Linked DNA regions of Homo sapiens. The protein of the gene in region 2 interacts with the protein of the main gene of each other region in a pairwise test. Each region holds a gene or a part of one and is shown on either strand. Other genes may lie near its edges.

Region 1 (2,686 bases), on a different chromosome or scaffold from region 2:
GAGGCGGAGGTTGCAGTGAGCCGAGATTGCGCCACTGCACTCCAGCCTGGGCAACAGAGCAAAACTCTGTCTCAAAAAAAAAAAAAAAAAAAAATTTGCAAGTGGATGCAGCACCACTGCACTCCCTTATATTCTCACCTTGACTCCGCATTTCTCCCCTTTGGAATTCAGAGTGCCAAGCCCCGGCTGGACTGCTTGATTGAAGTATACAGGAGCTGCCAGGAGATCCTGGCACACCAGAAAGCCACATCAACAAGCCCATGAGCCCCAGCGTTCAGAAGGCCAGCATTGTCTTCCATGGGAGATGACTCTTAAGCCATAGGGGCTGGTTTTCCGTACTCCAAACCATCAGGTGGACACAGTCCTAGGAACCATTATGGATGTAGTGCATCTTAGAGCCATAGAGCAGGTGACTGGAAATCTAACTCAGTATATTTCCGTGTATTATAGTGTTTTCCTTGTAAGGTTTTGCCTACTTTACCAAAGGAGGGGAGACCTTAAGAATTTTGACACAGTATGTCAAAAGTAATGTCAGCAAAGAACACTTTCGGAAATTGCTAAGCATGTTCAGGTTTACTTTGTTGATGTTTGTGAAGCAAAACAATGGGAAACTGACATCAGATGTCTTGAGAAAGCTATATTTTCCAATAGTACCCCTTGTGTAAAGTTACGAAAAAAACAAGCCCTTCAGTACTGGTTAGCAGGAAGAAATGTCCTACAAAAGACGAGTCTGTCAACCTAGTGCCTGTGTTCTGTACAGGGCTTATTTATTTACTGTTAATAAACAGATCTTCCAAAACACACAGTTACCTGGTTCACAGATAGCTGCTTTTTATTGACAAACAAGATCATAGTATTTCAGTCATGGTGTCAAGCACATTAATACTTTTCTGTTACTCAGCATTTTTTTTTATATCAGTTCAAAAGCTACTTTTGCCAAGAAGGATGAGACAAAAGGCCAGACAGAAATTGGACTTTGGTTTTCAGACATGGGACTCTCATGTTAACAAAGAATAAATAAGCAAATATTGAATCCTTTGTTTCTAAGTTAGTTTCTTCTGTATAAGATTAATAAACTAAAGGGTTCCTGAAGGGTTGGGGAGGAGAGAGGGTGGGGGAAATAGATTGACCCCAAATTCAGTGTGAACACAGCTCCATTCTTGTTTACTCTTCCTTTGGACTCCTACTTTTCTTCTAAACTCTCTGGGTAGATAATGTTATCCTTATTGGCCTTAGAGATACCCAAGATATTATAAAACCAGAGCTGTTATGTCTGTCACCAGCCCTGCAGGAATTATTCAGGAACCTGTGGTACATGTGACTTGTTCGAGGTAGAAATGTCTCAGCTAGATCCCCAAGTTGTGGGGTGAAAAGTGTGAACAGAAATGGCTGTAAAACTACTTGCCTTGCAAAGTCAAGTACATTTAAAAGAGGCAGAAACTTGGATGTGCTTCTTTTTTCATCATGCTTGTCAGTTTACGGGGTGAGAGAGGAGAAGCTTACAGCAGCTGAGGTGTTCAGATAAACTAGTTCTGGCCTCGCAGTTTTTGCTGTGCAAAAGATACACACATTGTTGGGGTTAAAGGCTTGGTTTTGGGTGCTACTGCTAAATATACAGTTTTCAGCACTTTACTGACATATAGTAAGGCTGCCTTAGAGCTAGGAAATAAAACTCAGTTTCCTAGATGTTGGAAAATCAGAGTATGAACTCTTTCGTTTTGTTTTTGTTAGGGGAGGGTGTGTCTACAACCTGTCTAGAGGAGACTGTCTAGTCTCCTCTGCACTCAATCAGAAGGTCTGAATTGAGGGGGATTATGGTATTATCAGTAAGGCAAAAGATGAAAGAAACTTTTTTTTACCTGCTACTCTTAGGCTAGGGCAAATGTCACATATGTACCCTCACCCTCAAACTAATTCCCAGCAGAAGTTTGCCAGAAGTCTCAAGGAGCATATCCAGGCCCACATGCCTGAAATAGTCTTCTGTGTTTCTGACTCATTTTTGGTGGTCTTACAGCAGCAAAAAGCAGAGTGCATTTGCTTGGTCTTTTACAAGAAGAAGGAAACAAATGATGGCCCACTACAGTGAACACAGCCTTCACCGAGCGCTGTCCAGTCATTAAAATGAGACAGGGAGGGGTCAGATTGGACCTACCTCCTGCCCTTGCTTGCACATTGCGTGGTACTGGGTTTGGCCTAAAGTCCAGTGTGAGGAAAACAGCTTGAATCTTAGCAGGTATAGCATGTTATCCTGCAAAGACTGCCCCAGAAGGGGCTGTACCAATGCCTACATACCAATAATGGGGAAAAATGAGTCTATTCTTTTTTCTCCAACTCTGTCAGCACCTTTCCCATTTGGGAAAGGCAGCCCAGTTTAGTGAGTTCTAGGCTTCTGACAGAGTGTAGGAGAATTGGAAATTTTAGTCCTATCCTGTTTAGCGACGTTCACAAAACTTCAAGTATAAATAAGACCATATACAATATTAAAAAATTAGCTTCTGGGCTGGGCGATGGCTCATGCCTGTAATCCCAGCACTTTGGGAGGCCAAAGTGGGCAGATCACCTGAGGTCAGGAGTTCGAGACCAGCCTGGCCAACATGGTGAAACCCCGTCTCTACTAAAAATACAAAAATTAGCCGGGCATGGTGGCGCACACCTGTAATCCCAGCCACTCCGAAGGCTGAGGCAG
Region 2 (3,774 bases):
CTGCACACACCGGGAGCCTGGTAGGCTTCGAGCAGAAGCCGAGGTCCCATCAAGGGTCCAGACTTTCCGTGCCTCCTTTGTTTTCATCGAGTCTGGGCCGCTTTAGCTCTGGGGGACTGCCCTGAGCGTCTCCAGGCGTCTCTGCAACATTAACAAACATAAGGTTGGCAAGTAAATGAAGAATTCTGGAAGTCAAGGGCTGACATTTACAGAATACAGAGCCAAGACACGGAACTGAGCTGCCTGGCAAGATCCTATACTGATATAATGGAAGTTCTATAGAGTGGCTCTCAACCAGGGGCGATTTTGCCTCTCAAGGGACAGTGGGCAATGTCTAGTGGCATTTTTGAATGTCATGGGCAAGCTGGGCGCGGTGGCTCACGCCTGTAATCGCAGCACTTTGGGAGGCTGAGGCGGGTGGATCATTTGAGGCCAGGAGTTCAAGACCAGCCTGGCCAACGTGGTGAAACCCCCGACTCTACTAAAAATACAAAAATTACCCGGGTGTGATGGCGCACGCCTGTAGTCCCGGCTACTCGGGAGGCCGAGGCAGGAGAATTGCTTGAACGTGGGAGGTGGAGGCTGCAGTGAGCCGAAATCGTGCCACTGCATTCCAGCCTGGGCGACAGAGCAAGACTGCATCTCAAAAAAAAGAAAAAAAAAAAAAGAATGTCATGGGCAAGAAGTAGCAGCCGGGGATGCTGTTAAACATCGCATAATACACAGGACAGTCCTCCACAACAAAGAATTGCCTGGCCCACAAGGTCAGCAGTCATCAGGTGGAGAAACCTGAGCTAGACAATCTCCTGCTGAACCCACTCCCTGGCTCACCAGGATGCTCTCACTGGCCAGGTGCCCCCTGCTGAGGCGTAAACAGGCAGCCGGCGGGTTTAAACAATGGTTCCAATAAGATGCATCCCTGCTGTCTCAGAACTGACTTAAAATTAGGCGGCATTAATTTCCAAAAGAACAAAAGAAAAGATACTCTACCTTTCATTATATTAAACCAGTAACAATATTACTTACCTGACTGAATTTCTTCTGTAGAAGGGGTGGAAATCACACTGGTTGGTACAGAACTTGGTGGAGTGTCCGTCTTTAAGGGTGTTAAGTTTATTCTCCTTGATTTAAAAAAAAAAAAGTAGAGGGGTGATGGCTCATTAGTATCACAGGAATTGTTTATGTATGATACCAACCTTCAAAACTACCAAAGGAAATACTTAAATTTTCAGCTGAACTTCTGGTTCAAGGCATTAAATAGTAAGATGTGCCCACTTGTTTAATAACTGAGGATTACATTCATGTATTAAGTTAAACCATCACATTTATAACAGTCAACTTAAACCATAACCAGTCATCGAAAAGTTTCAAAACCTGTGTTCTGTTCATTACCGACGGTCTTGTGAACACTCTGCTGGCTGCTGTAAAAGGCAGTCAGATATGGTTTCTATATATAGAAAGCGTCGAAACACAGGTAATACTTTTTTAAAATCCAGAGCGTTGGGCCGGGCAAGATGGTTCGCACCTGTAATCCCAGCACTTTGGCGGGCTGAGGCGGGCAGATCACTTGAGGTCAGGAGTTTTCGACCAGCTTGACCAACATGGCAAAACCTCGTCTCTACTAAAAATGCAAAAAGTCAGCCAGGCATGGTGGCGCATGCCTGTAATCCCAGCTACCTGAGAGGCTGAGGTAGGAGAATCACTTGAACCCAGAAGGCGGAGGTTGCAGTGAGCAGAGAGCATGCCATCGCACTCCAGCCCGGGCAACAGAGCAAGACCCTGTCTCAAATGAATAAATAAATAAATAAAAACCCAGAGTCTTAATTTTCAACAACTATTCTTGTTTGCAAAAGATTACATCTTCAAGAAGCTTGGTAAATAATTCAGAAGAAATCAAGAGGGGAAAAATAATTTAATACCAAAAATAGTTCAAGGAATACCTTCCGTCACATAAAAACAAACAGAAAAATTGTAAAATACATTGCTAATCTGCAGAAAGAAATGAGAGATTTTAAGAGGGCGTTAAAGCCAGCAACCCATACACATATTATGAACTTGCCAAAGAAGACCTATTGGCGCAGGAGAGGCTGAGAGGCACAGGGCGCTTCTGTCCAGCTCACCATCCCCACCACTCCCCTCTGCATCCCCCTTCCCAGCTCTCCTCGTGACTCAGTTTATGGGAAGGTTGGGAGGCAGAGGGCTTGGTGGAGAAGGAACTATACAGGATCAGAGGGGTAACTGGACATCAGCTGCAGGGGAAGAATGGAAACAGGAGGCTGTGCTGCCTGACGGCAGAAGGATGTGCTAAGTGGCTCTGTATCCAGTAGAAGTGGCAGACACAGGCGTGCGTGCCAGCCACACTGATGTAAGCAGGGAAGAAACGACTCTGCACCTCCTGGGGATTATTTGTTATCAGATCAGGACCTCCGTTTCTCACCGACCAGGCTGCTGGAGACATCAAACGCAGTCTCAGGAAGACACTCCTGGAATTGCCTACATCCTGGGCAGAACAGCATAAATAAAAAATGGGACCTGCTTCCTGTCCTTGGGGGCTCACAACCAGCAGGGGAACTGGAGCATCAAAGCACCTGCTATGGAATCTGATGTGTGGTGACAAGGGAAAGGCTGAAGGGCCACAAAGACTGCAAACAGAGAGGGTACATTGAAATGGGTCTTTCAGGAGACTCCTGGCATCACCAAGAGGAAGAGGTGTCCAGGGCTTCCCCAGAGAAGGGAAGGACAGAGGCCTCAAAGGGCAGAGAGTGCTCTGGGAAGATGACATTCAGGACTAGGCCGGAGATGAAGGCCACAGACTCAGGAGAGAGAGTGGCCACAGTCCTGGATGACAGGCTGCAGCCAAATCACAGTCTGTGTGTGTGCATAGGAGCCTGGGCTTTATCTGACAGGCAGAAACTGGAGGAACAAACAGAGGCCTATATGCAAGAAATGACACTCTCGGATTTGAAGTTAAGAATCTCTCTGGCAACCTACTGGCATGAAGCATTCACCGCCTGAAATTTCACCTGCAGCAGGGTGGGAGCGTTCTGTCTGCATTTTGTGTTTCATTTTGCAATGACATCTTGTTCCAACAAGTTCTTACCGGGGTGTTGTCTTGCTCCAGGCTTGCAGTGTGTTCAGAGTGACCCTCCGGGATGGGTGGGCTTTTGTGTTTTGACTACTGGGCTGCAGGGTCTTCTCCTCCGAAGGCCCCGGCAAGGGGCTTTTGACAGCAGGAGTGATGGAGGGAGGGTCCCTGATGACTGTTGGGGCTGGGGCCTGTCTGGCCTGAGGGGGAGTCGTGCCGGGGCTGCTGGGGTCTTGGGTTCTGCTGGCAGGGGTTCCCTCTACCGGTCTGGGTCCTGGCGAAGACCCTCGATGTGTCTGACTCTTGGTTTTCTTTGCTGTATCAGGAGTTCTCATGTTCAAAACTGGCTTCTCTTTCAAAGGAATTCCAAGTTCATCTTTCTCAAATGTCACAAATGAGCAGTAACCGTCCGTGGAAGAAATGGCCAGGAAGGCACCATCGCTGGACCTTCGTCCCCAAAACAGGGAAAAGTTACAGACCTTACCAACACTCTCACATCTACTTAGAAGAGGGAAGTTCGAGCAAAATCACAAGCTTGTTTGAAGGCAAAAACCAGGGAAAAGATACAACTGGAAAAGAGTGTGTGATAGCGACTCACTCATGCAGTTTCATCGCGATTTGCTAAGTCGCTGCAACCTATCTGTGCTACTAGCAATTTTCACTTGAATAGGCCGGGTGCGGTGGCTCAC

What was found.
Region 1: the proteins of CHAF1B (region 2) and PLEKHH1 interact in a two-hybrid assay, tested with the Homo sapiens proteins (one large-scale study listed by BioGRID and IntAct).

What each region holds. Positions count from the first base shown.
Region 1 is NC_000014.9:67,587,658-67,590,343, reverse strand, and holds the end of PLEKHH1 (pleckstrin homology domain-containing family H member 1), read right to left. Parts: 3' UTR 732-2,686; downstream 1-731. Other genes in the region: PIGH (phosphatidylinositol N-acetylglucosaminyltransferase subunit H), read left to right, coding at 172-199.
Region 2 is NC_000021.9:36,412,642-36,416,415, reverse strand, and holds part of CHAF1B (chromatin assembly factor 1 subunit B), read right to left. Parts: intron 3,533-3,774; coding exon 3,101-3,532; intron 1,122-3,100; coding exon 1,027-1,121; intron 142-1,026; coding exon 50-141; 3' UTR 1-49. UniProt on the Homo sapiens protein: Acts as a component of the histone chaperone complex chromatin assembly factor 1 (CAF-1), which assembles histone octamers onto DNA during replication and repair.